Linked DNA regions of Homo sapiens. The protein of the gene in region 2 purifies or fractionates together with the protein of the main gene of each other region. This does not show direct contact. Each region holds a gene or a part of one and is shown on either strand. Other genes may lie near its edges. The genes, in order: ZMYND8, KDM5C, MGA and ING3.

Region 1 (5,037 bases), on a different chromosome or scaffold from region 2:
ACCATGGGATCCTCAGTGCCTGGACAGTGCCTGACGCGATGTGTGTTTGCTGATTGGCAGGAATGAACTTATGCCCACGCGGGCCAACCTCCCCTGCCGGCCATGTCATGTCTTGGCCCTTGGCACAGGAAGGGGTTTGTGGAGATCTTTTCTGGGGAGTTACTGGATTGCAGAGAAGGAACACTGCTGCCCAGGAAACCAAACCTCAGCCTTTCAAGCCGGCTTCATTCTACTCATACCCTGTGCACCTCCAGCCAGGCCCAGAGCCATGGACCAGGGCACCTGCGAGGGGCTGGGATCCTTGCTGCCCACGCGAGGCCTGTTAGCTCGGCCTCCCTACGGGCTTCAAGAAGACAACTCCGTCCTCTCCCAACTGTTTGACGAGGACTGGCGTGGGGGGCACCCACTAGGGCCCATTCTCTCCAGTGTGCCCACCACCTGGCTGTGGGGGGTGTTCATGACCTCTCACGGCCCCTTCTGTGTTTGGTCGTGCAAACCTGACACAGCCATCCCGACCAAATGGAAAACTGCAAATTCGAGGACGACCACGGCATTTTTCCAAAACAGTTTAATTAAAAAAAGGTAAAGAAATCTGAAAAAACTGGGGGGGTGGGGGAAGGAACGGGCAAACCCAAAAAAGCATATAGTGTGAGTCTACTGGCTCAGTCACAAAGAAACACCACCATCAAAAAGATATTTAAGTTTAATACAAATTTTATACAAAGAAAATGTGAAAAAATACTTCCATATGCTAAAAGCAATTATGCTTCACAAATAAGGCCAGCTAGGCTATTTTTTTTTTTTGACAACTGCAATTCACAAATGTTCTTTCTCTCCTGTTTTCTTCTAATACTCTCTTATTTCTTCTCTAATATGGGTAACTAGCTGGAAACTGTACAGTTCGCATCCTCTTAACAATGAAGAGAAAGTAAACAAGACTAAAATGTACAACAAAACGTACTGGAATGATATCGTACAATTAATTTTCTCATATACATACATCACCTTTTGCTTTTTCATCAATGCTTTTTGTTTTACACAACATACAAAATGGCTCTACAGCATACGTAGTGTACGGACAGCATGACGGGCCTTGCTTTCTCTCATACTGCCTGTGTTTCATGCTTACATAAAAACGTGAAATTCCATCATATAAATAATACGTACATGCTTCATCCCAGACTCAAACGTCCTCTGCGTGCACCTTGCCTTTGAGTCCTTGCTTCCAAGAAGCACAGCATCTCTGACCAAGTGTGTGTGAGTGTGTTTAAAGGAACCACAAAGCAAAGATAAGGTTTCTCTTTTTTTCAGAGTTCATGATCCTAAGACTTTCTGTGTTCTCTCCTGTGACTGAGCTGAGTGGGGCTTGTTTGTTTCTCTTCTGTAAACAAGGATATTGTTTTTTCCCTTTTAGGAGTAGAGTCATCATTTCAATCACATGAAAGAAACTAGCTTCTCCCTGTGTCCGTCTGGTCCGGAGAGCTTGCGTTTTAGGAACGTGGTAACGTAGTAGCTGAAAGGAGCCAACGGCTTGATGGGATAGTCTGTGCCGAAACTCCCGATCCCAACATGCTGCGTACAGACACACGAGCGAAAACGGTTCGCCCTCCCCTGGGTATCCAAGGATGAGGACGTGAGTATGAAAGTGGTCCCCGGGCCCAGTATCCATTCCGTCGTGTGACAGACAGGCTAACTGACCATCCCTTCTCCAATACCAAAACATTCTTTTTTGTTGTTGGGGTTGGTTGCTTTTTTTTTTTTTTTTAAATCGTTTTTCTTTTTCTTTTTTTTTTTTTAATAAGTTAAAGTTAATACAAATATAAAAAGGGGAAAGTCCTCTAGATTCAATGACATCCACAAATTGTACATTATTTACACCAAAAGCACAGGGCTCGTGTGGGTGAACAGTCTGCAGTCAAAGCCGATGCTGGGTGTCCTGTAGTGTAGCAGCCCCCGCGCCGGGGGCTCAGGCTCAACTGAGGGTTTTGTCATTTTCAAGTCTGAAAGTGGCTGTTCTCCTGCCTTTGTTGTTTCTTCTTTTCCTGGCGTCTGGGTTTTTCTCCCAATGGGGTGGGTGGTTTGTGTCCCGATTCACTGCTAGTCCCAGAAGGTGTCCAGCCGAGACTCTTTCGGGAGGAGGCTCTTCGTGCTGGTACTGGTGTTGTGATCGGAACGTGTCGATCCCCTCTTCTCATCACTGCTGCTCCAACTGGATTTATTACTCCGGGAATGGTCTGAGGGGGAAAACCAATGTGTTTAGCGTGCCTGCCCACCTGCGCCTGAGCACAACTATCCTGCAATCTGACCTGCCCCTCCTGCACAGGAAACCACCTTCCCCTCCCAATTGATGGTTCAAACACTGCCACCGCTGACTGCCCTGCATCTGTGGGTCTGTAGAACAGAAAGGTAGAACAACTTATTTTTTAGGATTTAACGACAACCGGTTGAAAAAACGGTAGGGTGTCATGCTCACAGAGAATAAAGATTTGTAGAAAAGGTGCTGAACTGCCAAGGAAGGCATTTCTTGTGCCGTGTCTGGAACCGTGTATCCTTACTACATCACTGAACGACACCAAGCACCCCATGCACTTCTGGGTCCAACCTTGGCCCCTGGAGAAAGACACTGAAATTTGGCATGCAGTCTACTTCCGTTAGTGGGATTTCTTTTATCAATGTATAGGCAACTTGAAAAATGGCCTTACAACCAAATCACACTTGTCCACCCAAGGGAAAGGATCATAAAGGAGAAGAATGGTTAAGTCCACCTGGGAACACACACCCACTGACTCCCGGTAAGGACAAGCTTATGGGTGACTGAAGAATTCAGAATCAGAATAAGACCTAGGATGGCTTCAAGGACACATGGACAAGGAGCTGAGTAGTGACTGAGTAAGAAATAAGTGAAGAAGCTGAAGGAAGAGCCGAATGAGGTGTCTGTGAAGAGCACTTTAGCCAACAGCCCAGCCCAGATCTGCAGCTCTGCTAGATGGCTGACTGGAGAAACCTTCCAGCCAAGCCCTAAGATCCCATCACATCCTGGATCATGTACTAAGTTCAGACAGACTGGGACAGAATTATTTTTTAATTTCTTAAGGTGGGTGATAATGTTTGGTTGAAAGAGGTTGAGGGCAAGAGTGGAGTGGGCCAAGGAGGGGACCATGCTACTACCTAGGGGGGCTGCATTTCTTACTGCCTGGTAAAAAGGCATGTGTGGGTAATCATGAGTTCTGGAAGATAAGCAGTGAAGAGAATGACAAAGATCTCCAAAGTCATGTAGTTACTCAGGAGAGAACTCTTCTTAGTCATGTGCATCAGTGACCAAAAGGGAGCAATACTATGGTAGGCAGAGCTGGGGGCAAGGGCGGAGTCTTCTTAACAATCCTCAATCTGCCTTCTTATGCCTTCTTCCCTTAGCCGCCATGCCTATGCTTTTATTTCTCCGGAAGGACTCTGGGGAGTGATGCAGCTGGTCATCCCCATCTGGGAGAAAATCCTACAGTGATGTGGTCAAACCACATCAAGTCCTTCCAGCTCTGGTGAGGGCAGAGACCACCAGCGGGTACTGGAAGAAATGGGACCAGGGCCAAGCTGAGTTCAGTATCTCTCTCCCAGAACCAGGCTGGCTAATGGAGGGATCTGCAGGCCCTCACTCCTCATATGGAGAGGACACGGGACACTGGCTGCCATAGCCAATCACCACAGGAGGGAATCGGTGTTCATCTAGGACCCTTTATGAAAAGAGCGAGGACGATCTCCATCAAGAAGCCAGGCCACATGCTCGCTCTCATTTCCTAATGCAGTTTGTGATGGCGACCAGAGGCACAGCGAAGAAGAAACGTTGCAAAGGAAGACCCACAACTCAAAAGAACAGGAGAAGACACACCCACAAAGGAACACATACACGGACACACACAGAACAAGCCTTCTGCATACCAGGAAGAAGCCCCGGCAGCTTTCGTAAGACAGGTTCATACTTACACTTCTGGGCGGGGTAGTTGGGGTGCGGCTGGTGGTCTGTGGTGGTTGGGGCATAGGCAGGTTGCTTGTCACACCTTTTGCTAACTGAAGAGATAGCACAGGTAGCCTCAGAGTCTGTCAGAGAGCTGGAATTCCGCACAACCCCAAGTGCTTACTATTTTTGTTCATCAACAGGCTACTGTTATTAGAACCAGTTGGCACCTTCATTCATGTCACCATTGTCCAACTTTAATGCAAGCACAGGAGACTAAGTCTCTTTAAAAATGCATATCAAACCACAAACAGCATCACTGGACACAGCACAGCATTACAGGTAGGAAATAAGGTATACAATGACATAAAAGCAACTCAGCATTTTGTAAGCCACAAATTTTCAACCACTAGCTCTGCCAATAGCCTAATTCAACCATGGGAAACGGAGGCAGGCACTAGAAACGTGCTAAGGTTGAAGGCAGCACCCGAGAAAGCCAGACAATTTAAGGCAATAACTCATCAACTGCCCACAGTGATAACAGAATAGGGAGGAGAGGATGGAGAAGGCACACGTGATGAGGAGGACTAAGGAAGGGGCTCCAGATGAGGTGGCAAGTAAGCTAAATTCTCAGCTACGATGGTAGCACACCAACAAATCACCTCTGAAATCAGAGTCAAAAAACAGTGATATGAAAGGAGTCTCCGTAAACAGCTGATACCGTGAGAAGCTTCATAGGAAAACAATTGAAAGTAAGATCAAGAGAAAAAATAGAAACTCCAGGAAAAAGGCTATAAAAGAATGGAATATAATCACAGTACACTATGTGACTCTGCCATGAATGATATGGTCATAATCATACAAGAAAGAATTGTCACACTGCAACTTTTTAGACTAAGCCAACAGACAAGAGTGAGGCTTAACTGCAGTTATAGGACAGAATGCACATGTTCTCAACCTTGACAACGGGGAAAGTCACAGGACAGGTGGGAAGCCTGGCTATGACAGGGGTGGGAGAGGTAAGGAGAAGATGGACTGCCAAAAGAGGGGTCAAGAGATACTGTCTGTAGCAGACAGAACAAAAGAGC
Region 2 (2,601 bases):
GGGAATTATGCAGTAGATGGGTTAGACAGGAAAACATTCTAGGAAGAACGAGATTCTATGTATAATCTTAAGGGCAATAAAGCATCATGGAAGGTTTTAAGCAGTATATAATCAGATCTACACTTTAGAAACCCCCCAAATCACTGAATTGTACATTTCAAACAAGTGAATTTTATAGTATGTAAATTATATCTCAATAAAGCCATTAACAAAAAAATCCCTTTGGGAGCTTGAGGAGGATAAACTGGAGGGCATCAACTGGGGGAGGTTGTAGTGTAGGAGTTTGGGTGAGGGGGCCCGAGCCCATCTGTTTGGACTTGAGGGAAAGTGGCTTGGGGTTAGAGTCGGGGGAGGATCAGAATGTCTTGCCCAAGGTTAAGAAGCTGGTGGAACTTGATTTCAGAACCCAGAGCTCCCTGGCTTCAGCCCTAGTGCTCCTGCCAGCACTACAGCTGCTCCACTGACTGGTGATGGAAGCACTGTCTTCCCCGTCTAAGAGAAATGCACTTCAGAAACATGTTTCCAAAAAATGTTTCTAAGGGTTTTATTTCTAACAAGAGGAAAATAATAAAATAAAATTAAAATAGGCTTCAGTTGGAACCAAGTTTCTTGTTTTGCTTTTTTTTTTCTTTTGAACAAATTAATTACACACCAACAATCTTCTTTTATTACAACATGAACCCAGGAGGAGGAAAGGAGACAGGGGAGGACAGGGAGGGAGGACTGAGGTGGTTGTGAGGACAAGCACCAAAAGCTTTCTTCAGATCACAGGGAGCCCTGTTCAGCTCCCCAGCCAAATTCCTTTAAAATAAAAAACTGTGAGCACGGCTATGTGAAGTTTCCTCCTCCTGGGTGGAACAGTCAGGGGAAGGGAGAGGGAGAAGGGGGTAGGAAGGAAGGAAAAGAGGGGAGGAGAGTGGGGGCAGGGGTTAGTGTAGCATGGCCTGGCCAGGACCAGAACTGGGGAGAGAAGGGAGGAGAGTCCCCCAGTTTGCATATACACTGGCCTTGTCTCTGGAATGGTGATGGCCCAGCCCCAGCCACCCCCCTGCCCACCAGCCCATCCATCTATCTGCCTCAGGTGTCTGGGAATGCTGGTTAGAGGCTACCAGGGAGGGAAGACTCCAGGGGCCGGCCCCCAGGAGCTGAGGTCTGAACAATACCTTGGAGTCAGAATACAAAAGTCAAGGGACTCAGGGGTGGGCGGGTAGCAGGGATGGCCACCCCCCTACCCGCCCACCCCCCAAGAAGCAGGCTTGATGGTCAGAAAGAGGATCCTTGAGGCCGAGGGGGGTCTCTGTCAGGGTCTGTGCTAGGCTCAGCCACTGTCACAACTGTTGCTGAGGCGGCTGCTGTGGGCAGGGCAGATGCAGCCGGGGAGTCAGAGTGGAGAAAGGGGCCGAGGGGCCTGAAGTGGTCCCTTCCGCCGGTTCCAAGCCATTCTGGTTCTCCTGGGTGCTGGGGCTGCCAGTGGTGGGGATGGGTGCAGGGGGGCCCTCACCCCCAGTCTCCTCCTCCAGCTCTTCCTCCTCCTGGACCTCCTCAGCCTCTGGCCCTGAGCTCCGTACCCTCTTTGGCTCTAGCTCCTCTCGGGCTGGGTCATCGCCCTCCCCACCCCGATCCACCTTCCGCCGCCGCCGCCTCTCCAGGGCCCGGCCCCGAGCCCGACTCCCGTGACGCTCTGCCTTCTCCAGCTGTGATTACAGACAGGCAGAAAGACAGGTTGTGGGCCAGTGGTCAGGCCTGGGCTCCCTACTCGGCCTGACCTCCTGGCCCGGCCCATGACCCCTCTCCTCACCTCCAGAAGTGTGCGGATCCTCTCCAGGTCTGGGGGCTGTCCAGCCTGCAGCAGCTGCCATATGCTGTGGTTCTCATCCAGGGTCACCTCGAGCAGGTCCCCCTCCATCATGAGCTCCTCCAAGGGGGCCCGGGTTGCCTCAGGCAGTTCCAACACAGGGCCAGTCAACTGTGGCAACAGCGAGGACAGCAGCTCCAGATCTAGGAGGTTGCAGGAACAAGCGGCATTAGAGGCTGCCCTTGGTCTTATCCCCACCACTACAACAGAGCTGAGGACTACATGGGTCACTATGGTGATGTGCAGTCAACAGCCTACCCACACCACACCTAGACCTACCTCTCTTACCTGAGCCCTCCTCCGGGGCTACCTTCTCAGGACTGGTCACACTGTCTCCATTCTCCAGTAAGCCCTGGACCTGCGGAGGAGAGCAAGAATAGGTAGGGGCAACTGAAGTGAAGAACCAGGCCCTATTCCTCCTCCGCCAACCCCAAACTTGAGACCCTCCGCCTTCTGGAGGAGGAGGGAAGACACAGGCTGCCAGCAGGGAGCAGAGTCTAGGAATCTGGACAGATGCAGAATGGAGTAGGAAGGCTGGTCCAAAGAAAACTGAAAATTGGAGAACAAGGGGCAGGGCCGAGCCTAAACTGGGGTAGGGGCTAGGAGACAAGAATCTGAGGACAAGAGCTGGGCTGAGTAGCTCACCTTAGGCATATCCTTGCCACTGCCCTCTCTGAGGGGGTCAGAAGCAGGGGCTGCAGGGTAGTTAGGAGGCTCCTCAGGTCTAGGTTCAGCCTGTAGCCGTT
Region 3 (7,051 bases), on a different chromosome or scaffold from region 2:
ACCATTCTACTTTCTACTTTTATGAATATTTTGCAGTATTTGTCTTTTTTTGTTTTGCCTATTTCACTTAGCATAGTATTCTCTAGGCTCATCTATGTTGTCATAATTGGTATGATTTTCTTTTTTTTATTGAGATGGAGTCTCAAATGTAGTCAGGTGTTGGTATTCTTGGGTGGTCCTGGAACCAATCCCCCAAGGATATCAAGGAACATTCTAAATACATATGAATAATTCTGATAAGTTATCCAATTTGCCTACAATTCTAGATCCTGAACCCAACTGATTCTCATTACAGAAAAATGATGTCACTTCACAGAATGTAAAAGCAGTTGTAGTATATTTTATAGTGGCTTACATTTATCAACATCTGTAGCATTCCACAGAACCAAGATGTTAAATCCAACACCTGGCCCATCTCAATCTTCCTTTTATTTCTAAGAACAGAAAAACTACTACTTACCATTCAGAAATCTCTTGCTTCAATTGAGGAACTTCACTAAGTGCTGAATCAGTATCCATGAAACCAAGAAAGTCTCGTTTTATATTAAGGGAAGTCTTCTCCAAACCCTTGCCTGATGTTTCATGACCCCTTGACAAAGGATCCAAATCACCTGGTTGTATCTCTGACCCCTGACCTTCTGTAAGACGGACCCGATGACCAGAAGAACTGGAAATATTATTCCCTTCTTGGTCAGAGCTGTTCTTTTGTTTTCCATCTCTCTGGGGCTTATTATTCAGCCCATCATCCCGAAAGCCTTTGGCAAATGGATTGTAATCTATTTTCAGCTGAGTAATCTGAATGTTCTGATAAGCTGTTACTGCAAAGAATTCAGTCTGTGGGAAGGTAAAAGTGTGGACACCAGGGCCATTTAATTGTATCACCTCCACAGCCTTTTCTGCAGGCACCAAATGAAGCCTCGGCAGGTAACGATGCATAGAGTGCAAGATGATATGCCCTTCTTGGTCCAGTGTATTGTTGGTAAGTTTGAGTTTATAGAAAGATACTGGTTGATGCATCCAATAATGACCTGTGGAAGGAGATTCTGGATGAATGAAAACCCTCCCCAAAACATGAGGTTCAGCCTTCCCACTAGGTTCCCACCAACGACCATTCCACTTATAACGATGGTTATCCACAGGAGATATATCCATGACAAGAATATACTTCAAATTTGAATCTAAACCTGTTATCCAATAACGACAGTAAGGAAACATGCGTCTTCCTTGCTTGGTCAGAATCATCTCTGTGCTTCGATGATAGAACTCATTCCACATACTATTGTTATCGAGGGTAACAGTGATTCCACCCACAGTACAATCAGCTGGAAGGCAAATCTTCCCTTTAGATTTTACTGGTGATGACACACTACTAGCCAAAGCACAGGCATCCTGATTAGTAACCAAAATTCCTTGATCAGTTTTGCCATTTCCTGGCTGCTTTAAGATGACAAAGAAGGTAGGTGCTGCTCCTGCCACTGTTCCACCATCTTGATTAGCCAATATAATCTGCTGTTTCTCCTCCATGATTTCAGTAGGAAACTCAGTAGTAAGACAACTGTAATCACCACATAGTCACAATGGCCTTCCCATCCTAAGAAACAAGCAAAAAAAAACCAAAAACAAAAAACACCCTTTAATCAAGTGAGTATTTATTTCTTGAACAAAAATACAAGAACGATTATGTTATCCCCAAAATATTCCTAAATTCTTCTAAGACTTTGCTTCTAAGCTTTTCTTTCAATCACAGTAAGAATATTTACTCTGGAATATCTAATCATTTTTTAAAGTTCATTTTAATCTAATTAGTTAAGGTGCTTATATCCTAATCCTCTAACAATTCACTATAAATACTATAATCTCACACAAAGAAACAAAAGAGTATATTCATTATTAAAAAAGTATACAAAATTAAAAAGTTAAATTTGAAGGTTATGCATTTTTAAAGCATCCTAACACTTTATGAATTTACCAGAAGATTCCTTTATATAGCAAGTTCCCCAGTGATGAGTAAATTAAATAAGTAAAGTTCCATTTTCATCCCAAAGAGCTAATTGTACAGAATTAGTTCTTCATATGGTTCAGAAGACATGGTTCCATAAATAAGTAAAAAGCTATCTAACTTCTTAGTACACACGTTTAAAGAAGCCATGACAAATCACTGGAACTCAATGGACCTTACACTGAAATAAATTCCAGATGACTCTAATATTTAATTTTTTTATTCCTAAATCCTGAGAAAAGTTTTTTGATAAGACACAAAATCTAAAACCAGTAAGGCCAAAAAAAAAAAAAGTGATAAATTTAATACTATATGATGCCAGGTGTGGTGGCTCACACCTGCAATCCCAGCACTTTGAGAGGCTGAGGCCAGTGGATCATTTAAAGCCAGGAATTCGAGACTAGCCTGGCCAACATGGCGAAACCCCATCTCTATTAAAAATTAAAAAATTAGCCTGGTGTGGTGGTGCACGCCTGTAGTCCCAGCTACTCAGGAGGCTGAGGCATGAGAATCACTTGATCCTAGGAGGCAGAAGGTGCACTGAGCCAAGATCACGCCACTGCACTCCAGCCTGGGTGACAGGGAAAGACTCCGTCTCAAAGAAATAAAAATAAAATAAAATTTAATATTCTGTAAATTTTTTAATCTGGCAAAATCATTTAAGCAAAATCAAAAAGCAAACTAACCAGGAAAAGGTATTTGCAACTTATAAAGAACTCCTTTCCCTAATATAAAAAGGGGGCTGGACATGGTGACTCACACCTATAATCCCAGCACTTTGGGAGGCCAAGGCAGGAGGATTGCTTGAAGTCAGGAGTCCCAGACCAGCCTGTCCAACGTAGTGAAAGTCCGTCTCTATTAAAAAATAATAGCGGCGGGGGAGCAGTGGCTCACGCCTGTAATCCAAGCACTCTGGGAGGCCAAGGAGGTCAGATCACTTGAGGTCAGGAGCTCAAGACCAGCCTGGCCAACATGGTGAAACCCTGTCTCTACTAAAAATAAAAAAATTAGCTAGGCATGGTGGTGTGCGCCCATAATCCCAGGTACTCGGGAGGCTAAGACAAGAGAATTGCTTGAACCCAGGAGGTGGAGTTGCAGCGAGCCAAGATGGCACCACTGCACTTCAGCCTGGGTGACAGAGCGAGACTCTGACTCAAAAAAAAAAATAAAAATACATTAACAGTAATAATAATTTTTAAAGGCTTCCTACAAATCAACAAGACCAAATACCTAACAGAAAAATGAGTAAAGGATAATAAACGCAAATGGCTATGAATATGTACATAGTTAAGAGGAAAGCAAATTAAAGTCATCTTGAGATACTGTTTTTTTACTTATCAGACTGGCAAAAATCAAAGCCTGGTAGTGCTGGAAAGGGTTAGGTCAACCAGCATTCTCCCCTAAGCAGTTACTGGGAGTATAAAATAATAGAATCTCTAAGAGAGGGCAACTTGAAAATATCAAAAGTACAAATCCATATATCATCCTATGACAAAGAATTGTTCCCAGGACTTTAAGTTTTCTTAATTCACTGTTAAAACCCACTATAGGACTTTATTTTAAATACACACACCTGTGATAAATGATATCTATACAAGATTATCCCCTGCATTCCCACTTATAACAGCAAAAGACTAGACAGGAAGAGAGAAGTCCTTAAAATGGTAAAACAAATGATGACACATCCATAGAGTGGAATGTTAACAGTCACAAAAGAGAATGTATAAGCTTAATGAATGCATGCAAAAAGTATCTACAAGATATATTAAGCGTAAAATGTTCAGAAGAGTTGTAAATTATGCCACACATCTTTTAAAAGTTTTTTATTGTACCTCTTAAACTTCAGACAGGGAGAACACGTGCAGGTTTGTTTACATGAGTCTACTGCATAATATAAGGTTTGGGCTTCTAATGATCCCATCATCCAAGCAGTGAACATAGTACCTGATAGGTAGTTTTTCAACCCTTGTAAAAGATTTTTCCTTTTTAAAATCAAAGAAATAGACAGTATTTCGGTCTTTAAAATAAATAAAAAGCCAAAGAATGAAAAAGAACATGTACATATTTGCTTTACACAGACTATCTCTGGAAAGACAGAAAAGAAAACAGTAGTATTGGTCATATCCAAGGAAAACTTGATGACTTGGAAAAGATACCCTTTTACACTTTGTAAATTTTGTGTCTTGTGAACACACAACCTTTAAAAACTAAAACACAGGCCAGGTGGGCAGGTGCAGTGGCTCACACCGGTAATTCCATCACTTTAGGAGGCCCATGTGGGAGTAACGTTTGAGGTCAAGAGTTCAAGACCAGCCTGGTCAAAATAGCCAGTCAGTCTCTACCAAAAAAAAAAAAAAAATAGCAGGTATGGTGGCCAGGAGGCTGAGGCAGGAGGACACCTTCAGCAGCCCTGGAAGTTCAGGTTGCAGTGAGCCATAACCATATCACTGCACTCCAGCCTAGGAGACAGAGTGAGACCCCGTCTCTTTAAAAAAATAAAAAATAAAGTTAAAATTAGTTAATTATTAAAGGTTATAAAGAAAAAGGTCACATATATTGTATGATTCCATTTATATGAGATGTCCAACACAGGCAAATCTAGAGAAACAAAGTAGATTAGTGGTTTCAGGGGAAGGGGTAACTGGGACTAACTGCTAATGGGTGTGGGATTTCTTTTTGGTGTATACTTTAAAATGATGAATTATATGTTATGTGAATTATATCTCAATAAAAAGTTATAATAAAGAAATGAGGCCGGCCATGGTGGCTCATGCCTATAATGCCAGCACGTTGGGAGGCTGAGGCAGGAGGATCGCTTAAGCCCAGGAGTTTGAGACCAACCTGGAAAACACAGTGAGACTCCATCTCTACAATGGTGTGTAGCTGTAGTCCCAGCTACTTGAGTGGCTGAGGTGAGAGGATCCCTCGAGCCTGGGGGTGGGGAGGCCAAGGCTGCAGTGAGCTGTGATGGTGCCACTGCACTCCAGTCTAGATGACAGAGTGAGACCCTGTCTCAAAAAAAAAAAACCAAAACGAAATCTGATTGCTAAAATCAACCGAACTCATATGCCAAATTAAAGCTACAGCTTCCAGTTTTTATACAAAAAGGAAGATGCTACATCACCACCACTCCTGTGTAAGTGGGTCAGTAATCTTAATCAAATTCAGCCACTTATTAGTCTTCTTCATTATAATTAAAAAGTATTTTACCTTTCATCAGAGCTAATGATGAGCAGCAAAAGCACCTAATCTGAATTTTACCTCTTCTTACAAGATTGGTCATACAGCTCCAAAGCTTAAAATATCTGTTAGTCTACAGATAATAGATATTTTTAAAATCACGACTTCAAAAGGTTTACTATTGTTTCCTATTATGACTAGAGATAAAAATAGAAATTCACTTCCCAACACTAAAGCACTAATATCAGGAAAGGTCAGGAACAACAACAACAAAAAATCTCTCCTCTGATGTGAAGTTTATTTTTAAAAGAGATAAAATGTACAGTGATTCTTTTCAAAAGCTGCCTCAAGCTTTTACCTATGAAGTTGATTGGTTTTCTAAAACTAACACACTTAGGCGATACCTATCAGAGACTGACAAAACAAAACTAAACGGAAGTCACAAATAAGGTAAAATATTAAAGCTTAAAGAACTGGCAAAAAAAAAATACCTCTACAATGATGTATAATTCAAACAATGCAAACTCCTAGCTTGTACTTATTAATTCATAAACTTCAAGGTTTTATTACAAATCACCAACTATTTTTGTGAATAAGTATGCAAAACATCCTTTGTGTGTATGTGTTCCACGTGAGCACAACATCCTTAGGTGCATTTCATATGACTAAGGCAGCAAAGAAGTATATGAAAAAAAATCTAGTTATCCCAAACCTATAAATTACATGAAAAGGTGCCGAATTTATTAAACATCTTTCTATAAACTAAAATTTTGGTTTTCAGATCATTACCAGTAAAACCAAGACAGAGAAGTTTTAACCAATTCTTTAAAAATTACTGTCTTTTAAAGATTAATCTATGAAATGTCAAAGATGCAGTTGACAAAAACCCAGTTTGGTGAAAATCAGACTGCACTTGAAGTAAATTTTACACTAACTTTATATACACACACTGAGTTTTTCTTTCTGCCGAAGCAAAATATTAGTGCAGAGAAGTCATATCAACCTATTTCAACTTTGTGCACAGGCATATAATAAAAAAATGTAAAAATGTGCCTGAAGACAGGAAAATAAACTTCTGACTTATGATTTGTATAAGGCCGGTTTTTTAACTCCACTAATCAAATTAATCCATTAGTTGATGAAAATGCATTGAATTAAAGACTTAATTTATGACTAAAACCATCTCTATCTTGAGCCATAACAGCTACTGGTTTAAGAACATGGAATGAAATTCTTATTCTACATCAATCTAGGCACAGATTCCACTTCGCTATAAGCATATGCCTAGGTTTGGAGCTACCATATGAATTTTCTTTTTTTTCTAAGATAAATATTGTAAAACATTTGAATTTTCTAATCAAAGGGCAGTCAATTAAGGATATTCAGCTGTTTCAGACACACCAAGACCACTCTAAAGTCTACTTAAGCCAACCGCAAAACTCAAATGTACTTTAGAAAGGGGTAGGCTAGGCCGGGAGCGGTGGCTCGCGCTTGTAATCCCAGCACTTTGAGGGGCTGAGGCGGGCGAATCACCTGATGTCAGGAGTTCAAGATCAGCCTGGCCAACATGACAAAACCCTCTCTCTACAAAAAATACAAAAAATTAGCCGGGCGTCGTGTTGCGCACCTGTAGTCCCAGCTACTCGGGAGGATGAGGCAGGAGGTTGCAATGAGCCGAGATAGCACCACTGCATTCTAGCCTTGGAGATAGTGTGAGACTCGGTCTCAAAATAATAACAACAACAACAACAACAATAATAATAATAAAGAAAAGAAAAGGGTAGGCTACTCATGAAGAAATAAATCTTCTAGCAACATCCTAAAAATACTCTGGGAAACTAAAAGCTTTAATGAAAACCACAATTTTGGTAT
Region 4 (7,051 bases), on a different chromosome or scaffold from region 2:
TTTTCTTCTTTCTCCATATGTATACTTTAACCAGGTAAAGAAACTGTATGATTCATTAATCCTGAAACACTTTATTTCCCCTTACTCTAACACAAACAAACAAAGCAATCATATTTAAGAAAATTAACTTACCTAGTGTATTTTCCTTAGAGGCATCTGACGTAAGGGTGGATAGAAGAGCTTCAGATTTAAATTTCTTTTCAGGAATATGATCTGTTGTCGTATGGTGAGAAGTTGGATTATATTTCCTTTCTAAATATAAATAAAAAATTCATGTGTTTTTAAACTTTAGAGAACTATGGACAAGGCATAATACTTATATCCAGTTAAAATGTGAAACAGTATGATCTGGGTTCCTCATAAAATACAGAACATGATGTTTCCTCAGAAGGCAGGACAAGCAGAACTCTGTGTCACATGTTTATTAAGAGTAGACTTCTCCACCATTTAAAAAACTTCTAGCAAAGTACTAAAGATAACCCAAGATACACCATGGGCTCACATACAATGTGAGGGAAATTTTGTTTTCAAAACACAATCTACCACTTAAAATAGTTTCCCACCAAATTGATGTGTCAAAAGATGTACTGATATAGTCATTTTTTGACTGTTACCAACCAGCCAGCCAGTCATCTAACTAACAATTCATCCACTCACTGACTTACCAACCATTCAGACTTAATTATATGCCAAACATTAGGTTAAGCACTGGAGAAGCAAGGATGAAAAAGACAAAGGGCCTATTACAAAATAGCTTATTGTTTGGCTCAGTTGAAAAGCTCCCTAAGGAGAATGCTCAGTTGAAAAGCTCCCTAAGGAGAATCAGGTATGTGTATGAAGGGAATATATGCTATTAGTACTATACATTCTCCTTCTACGCATTTAAGAGAAAACAGAATACTCATTTCCGAATCACATATGCTCCCCCCAAGGAAAAAGACAAGTCTGCCAGTACTTGCAATGAAAAAAAAAGAAGGGATTTATTTCTCAATTGGTTGTGTAGAGTTAAAAAAAGAGAACATATAGGTGATATAATAAGGTTTTCATTGTTTTTAAAACTTAGCTGCACTACACCAAACTTACTTTCCACTGGAGTATGTGAATGAGCATGGTGATTGTTCACTGGCTGTGAAGGAGTGTCTAATTCCAAAGATCCTAAAAGAAGAGAGGCACAGAGATACACCACCATTAAATGTCACCGCAGAACTTCACATGTCACTCAACTACAGGCAATGAGTTCCCTTACCCAGCAGAGGACTAGCAAGTTCTGATGCATATGCCTGTATTTATTTTAGCCAGACATGTTAGAGGATCACCACTGTCCATCCCACACTGAGTTATCCTCTCTCTAAACAATAAGTTATCCTTTTCCCAATATTAATCTTAAGTACAAAATGGCTCAAGGCATACTCGTGTCTAATTAGGGAATTCACCATAGTGGGTGCCATATAAATGGATGAATGGACATTGTAATCTCATTACTGGTAAGAGTCAACCTAGTTTTACTGAGTTGAAGACCTTTTAATGGGAGATTCTGAAGTTCTACGTGATGGGGGACATTACTATATGAAAAAAATTATTTGATCATTAAAATGACATTATGATAATAAAGACTTCCTAAAAGAAGTTAGGGATTTTGTTCGCAAAAAGTGAGGAATAGAATCTCTAACACCAAGCTTTAAAATACCTCTAAATACATTTTTCTGGGTTTATTTTTGATCCCTTGAGATGAAATTATGGCAGGGCACAGGGTGGAGCAGTTTTTATAACTTGATCCAATTTTGTTTCATATGTCTGTGTCCTTAGAGAGGATGCTTTATTAACCTTCCTGCAGTACTGAATAGGCATGAATTATCATTACTCACAGCTATCATCAGCATTTTTAAAAAATCAAAGCAGATACAGAATTTTTAATTTTGTCTCAAAATACTTATTATCTTTATATAGGGTTCCTCCAGAAGAAAAGTATCACAAATAAATAGGATGATTATCTAAAGTGATGGATCTACTTTTGAACACAAAAATGCAACTATGGATACCAAGACAGATCTGTGATTGGCTTCCCTAGCTGACTTCTAGTGAGTAGAGAGATACATAGATTGGCACTGTAAAGAAATCTTTCATCTGTGTGTAGAAACAGGTACATATTCTTACTGTTGAAATGCACCAAGAAAAAGAAGGTTTGTAAGTTTTAATTAAATTCTAGTAGAAATTAGCCATAATATTAATTTGGTTCAATTAACATCTAGTGAGTGCCTACTCTACACCTAGTACCACACTAACTGCTTTTATGTACATTACCTATTTAGGTTGAAGAAATGCTAAATTAGTTAAGGAAACAGTGCTCATGCTTCCATTTTTGGGAAGTCACACCAAAGAAGTGACAGGGGTAAGTTATAGCAGGAGATCAAATAGAGCCTTGCAAAGAAATATCAAAATGGTTTCTTGCTGCTAAGGGAAAGAAGAAAACACTTCTTTAAGAAAAAGAGGTAGTGTTATGAAACCAATGTGAGTCTTTTTCAGTATATGCAGTTAAGGAAAAGCCATAAAGTAATTCTTAAGAAGAGAAACTAACAACTTTCCTCAAAGCTTAAGTGTATAAAGAGGCAGAGTAAAGTCAACACACTTAATGCAAGATGGTTAATTTGTCTCCCGATGGTTACATTTCTTTAAATTTGTTCTTACCACTCAACTTACTAGTATATGTGGATATAAAATGATTTAATATGTTGTTTCATAAAGAGTGAGTGGATGATATCCTATATTATCTCTCTCAGTATGCATGACCCAAACATTTCCAACTGTTAGGGTCCAAGCTATCTGGCCTGGATGCCACCATCCATTGAAGGGCAGGATTTCAAAAGCCTCTGTGGGACAAGGTCTTCTCAGCGATTTGCACATGTACTGTCCAATATTGATGGAAAACTGTAAATTTTACTTACGCCTCTCTAATATTTCTGTAATTCCAGCATTATCAGCTTCCAGCTCCATTTTAAACTTAGCCAGTTCCTGATCCAGCTTTCTCAAGTGTCGATCTACCTGTTTCAAAGAAGATCAAAGATAACCACCAAAATTTGGGACACTGTTAAAGTGTCAGCTTAATGAGGAAACCTAAATTTTTGTTTCTTTTAGTGAATCTGCTTAGTATCCTTGAGCAAGTCAATTAATCTATGCCTCAGAGGTTTTTAATCTATAAAATGAGGGTGTTAGGCTAAATAATCTCCCAAGTCTCCTTCAATAAATTTTAAGTTCTAAGACCCAGACTCTCAACTTGTTAGGAAATGTTCTATACTCCATTTTCAGAAGTCAGGACATGAAAATTAAAGCAAAACTGATTAGGGATTAGAGAATGGGAGGAGGGGATGGTGGAGGCTGGTCACTTTTCATAATATGCCCTGTGATTACTTAGAGCCTAATCTCCTCCTGCTTATAAGGCCATCATCCACACTGTCATACGATAAAAGCTATTATTTAGAATGATGAAAGATCCTCAGTCTACAAAGAAGTTCCTATATTCTATACATCTATTACTCTAAGGCATGAGAGTGAATCATAATGCTTGTAAACATTTATGTGAAGAGGTGAAACAAAAGGGATTGTTAGCCAGAAAACTCCATTCCTCAAAGGATCTGGTTAAAATTATTTTATTTATAATACTATTTCCCTAGTTAACTTGGCAAAATTTTATTTTGTCACTGAGAGATCTTTTGACTAATTTCAGAAAATTATATGACACTTCAAACTAACAAAAAATGTCTTAATGTATTTTTTAAACTTAATATTAAATATTTTAATATTTTTTCAAACTCATTACTTTGAAGTGAAACCAAAAAATACACAAATTCTTTGAAAAATATTCATGTCACATTATTGATAACATCCTTTTCTAAGTCTAGTTTCCCACTGGATTACTGCTAGAATTAGAAATAACTTTCTTACAGATATCAACATGTGCTATGATACTCTACCAGGGCAACATTTTAAGTAAGGTTTAGAATTAAATAATGTGTAACTAACATGAGGAAGAAGGGGAGAAAGGTAGCAAAACACAATGTGCATGGGTTAGATGCCTATGAAGAGGAGGTAATGTGCTTGACGCATCAGATGACCTATCTTTTCTAGCCCTCGATCTGATCTTTTGAAGTTATTACTGTCTCTACTTTATAGGTGAAGAAATTAAGGCTCGGAAGGGTTACTTAAGTAATATGCCCAAGGTCATATAGCTAATGCATTACAGAAACCAAATTTAACTTTATTTGTAACAAATTCTGCTTTGCCATTTACCTGACATTGACCTCTGAACTTTCTGCATGCAGAAAACAACTGTTTTTTTTTTGAAAAACATTCTTCAGAATAATATAACTCAAGTATAAAAACTAGTAATATTGTCCTATTATTTGTATTTTATATATTAACAACAATCATTAGGGTGTTGGTTTGTGATTTTTTCAAAAACTGAAAGCCAGTTTTCCTTCTACCTTTACACACACATTACTTTTCAGAGTTCTAGAATATTTAAAAACCTATAACATCACATATTATGGATACTTGCTCCTATTCAAAGAATCTGCAGGTAATTGAGCATCCTTTAATGGAACTTCCTTTCCAATAATAGTGTGAACACAGACGTCTGTTATTTGAGCATACCTCTTTCATTGTCAAAATTTAATCTCAAGGGAAATCAGAAAAAATATTCATATTTAAGTTCCAAGACCACTAATGCAACGAAAACACTCCATTGCTTTTTGTACCTACAATTATACTAATAATAAATATTGAGCTATTACGTGCTTGGTGCTGGATTAAATGGAGGATATATGAAGAATGGAAGAGAATCATTGCCTTCATAGGAATTAGAATTTAGCTGACAAATCAAGATTTATATATGATTTTTAATATAATAAGGGATAAAAATATAGTCTAGATGTCACAAATAAGCAACAGTTCAAAAAGAGTCAGAAGTTGTACATAAAAAAGTAACACTGGTAGACACGAAGGAGGTACGAATTAAGACGGTGAAGATGGATTGTATTCAAATAGAAGGAAAAAAGGAATCACAATAAAAAATGTAGAGACAGAAAGACAAACAGTATGCTTAGAGAAAAACAAAGTATGATGTAGCGTGTAATATGTATATAAAGCACAGTGAGCAAGAATGTTAGGTTGAGGGGGTAGTGTTAGGGTGAGATAAAGACCTTTCTTTTTCATACCATACACCTTGCCCTAACTCACTTCACCTCTGCATTTAAGGATTGTTTCATTTTATTAAATATATTATTGATAAAGTTCACTACATATGAAAATGTTAAAAATAATGACAAGACTTTCAATACTAGATAGCTCAGAAAAGGCACTAGAACCTAAAGGGTTAATAACTCTAAAAACCAAATTCATAGTTAAAATAAACAAAGACAGAAAAGCCTTAACCACTTGTGGTAGGCATCTTTATAAGACGGCTTCCAATCATTCTTACTTCCTCATATGTAAAAGAGATTATGACCTGATTAATATTATAAGCAATTATTAGGCAATGAGCATTATTTTTCTTCTATTTACTACTGCTGTACTAAATCAAATTAGAAGTTGGAAAGTCCCATTGACCACAAGAATTAACTTAAGCTATAAAGCACTAGGATATTTAAACAATATTAAACAGCCATAATAAGAGCTGTGAACTTGCCTGAAATCCATCATGTGCATTCCCTCAACCTACATGATTCTGAACGGTTACAGCACCTCTTCTAGCTGATCACCATGTTGTCCCCACAGGCATCAAGCAAAGCAAGGATGTAAGTTACCTCACCCTTCCACAAACATCTGCTTTCATAAGACTGATTTACAATAGTAAAGAGGGTACTGATCCAATTGAGAGATTTTCCATTAGCCACAGATTCCTAAAACAGGGCTAACCACAGAGTCTAATTATTTCTTTTTTTCCCAGTTAATGTCAACAAGTGCTATAAACAAAGTTTCCTTGCCCTATAATCCCAAATCATATTCTACAACCCCAAATCATAACAGCTTTAAGTTTAAACTCCTATAATTTTTCTAGCCTCTTTAAAGACAAAGGATATTCTACCAACATTACTTGTTAACACACTCATGATCATAGCAAATTTAAGTCATACTTGGCCCCTCTGCACAAAACAAACAAAAAATCCTTCATCCTATAATATTTGCATAGAGTTGTAATCTTTGACTCTTTCTTTTTTGACTCTCTGGTTTTCTAATATTCACATTTAAAGTGTATCACTAATGGACCCAAACAAAACTAAATACAGCTTTTTTAAAGTCTCTACATGATCTACTGCTTCCAATACAATCAATTTATAAAATTTAGATGTCTAGCTTGCCCTATCGGAAGAGGCAATCAAGTCTGTTACATTCTAAGTTGAAATAGACAGCAGTAAGTTAAATTTCTAACCATGAAAAGGTCTAGTAATAGCGAGTAAAGAGGGTAAATTGGGGAAGAAGAAGAAACCATGATAGCAAAGTATTTCTCAGATAACAGGTCATGAAAATGATTCTTTATATCTCTAAATTAGATTTAAACTAGATGAAAATGTGACCTATTGTTATGCTGAAACAAATACTTGAGAGGCCTTAGCATATAACTCTGTCTAATCATCTTCCTGAAAGACAATAAGGACAGGACAGAAATCAAAAGGTCAAACTCACATATTTCCTTAATTAGAGTATCAGATGAAAACTCTCAAATTTATAGGTAAAATGTGCATCTGAAATATAACCATCTCAGGAACAGGCCAGGATATAAAAAAAGAAGCAAGTTCAAGGGTATTGAGCACTGCAAGAGACTGCTAAAATCATTCAAGCATTAACTAAAAGCTCAAATTTTATCAGGGTATGTATAAATCAACTTTATTAGGTATTGCAATCCAATACATCCTTATGACAGTGACATCTGGCTGAGAAACACAAATAAGTATTTAACAACTATTTATGAGTATCATGCTTCTAGAACAAAACTATTTTAACAGGATAGATTTTTGTGTGTGTTAGTCAAATTTCACTAAAACGGCTACTAAAATAA

The links.
Region 1: the proteins of KDM5C (region 2) and ZMYND8 purify together in Homo sapiens (affinity purification with mass spectrometry; 2 studies listed by BioGRID and IntAct, with this or other methods). This does not show direct contact.
Region 3: the proteins of KDM5C (region 2) and MGA purify together in Homo sapiens (affinity purification with mass spectrometry; 2 studies listed by BioGRID and IntAct, with this or other methods). This does not show direct contact.
Region 4: the proteins of KDM5C (region 2) and ING3 purify together in Homo sapiens (co-immunoprecipitation; 2 studies listed by BioGRID and IntAct, with this or other methods). This does not show direct contact.

What each region holds. Positions count from the first base shown.
Region 1 is NC_000020.11:47,208,664-47,213,700, forward strand, and holds the end of ZMYND8 (MYND-type zinc finger-containing chromatin reader ZMYND8), read right to left. Parts: intron 4,063-5,037; coding exon 3,979-4,062; intron 2,235-3,978; coding exon 2,098-2,234; 3' UTR 551-2,097; downstream 1-550. UniProt on the Homo sapiens protein: Chromatin reader that recognizes dual histone modifications such as histone H3.1 dimethylated at 'Lys-36' and histone H4 acetylated at 'Lys-16' (H3.1K36me2-H4K16ac) and histone H3 methylated at 'Lys-4' and histone H4 acetylated at 'Lys-14' (H3K4me1-H3K14ac).
Region 2 is NC_000023.11:53,191,639-53,194,239, forward strand, and holds the end of KDM5C (lysine-specific demethylase 5C), read right to left. Parts: coding exon 2,501-2,601; intron 2,214-2,500; coding exon 2,135-2,213; intron 1,999-2,134; coding exon 1,799-1,998; intron 1,695-1,798; coding exon 1,329-1,694; 3' UTR 1,200-1,328; coding exon of another isoform or gene 1,106-1,199; 3' UTR 520-1,105; downstream 1-519. UniProt on the Homo sapiens protein: Histone demethylase that specifically demethylates 'Lys-4' of histone H3, thereby playing a central role in histone code. Does not demethylate histone H3 'Lys-9', H3 'Lys-27', H3 'Lys-36', H3 'Lys-79' or H4 'Lys-20'.
Region 3 is NC_000015.10:41,663,368-41,670,418, reverse strand, and holds part of MGA (MAX gene-associated protein), read right to left. Parts: intron 1,592-7,051; 5' UTR 1,525-1,591; coding exon 461-1,524; intron 1-460. UniProt on the Homo sapiens protein: Functions as a dual-specificity transcription factor, regulating the expression of both MAX-network and T-box family target genes. Functions as a repressor or an activator.
Region 4 is NC_000007.14:120,960,730-120,967,780, reverse strand, and holds part of ING3 (inhibitor of growth protein 3), read right to left. Parts: intron 3,040-7,051; coding exon 2,943-3,039; intron 2,526-2,942; exon of another isoform or gene 2,310-2,525; intron 2,079-2,309; exon of another isoform or gene 1,948-2,078; intron 1,156-1,947; coding exon 1,084-1,155; intron 253-1,083; coding exon 133-252; intron 1-132. UniProt on the Homo sapiens protein: Component of the NuA4 histone acetyltransferase (HAT) complex which is involved in transcriptional activation of select genes principally by acetylation of nucleosomal histones H4 and H2A.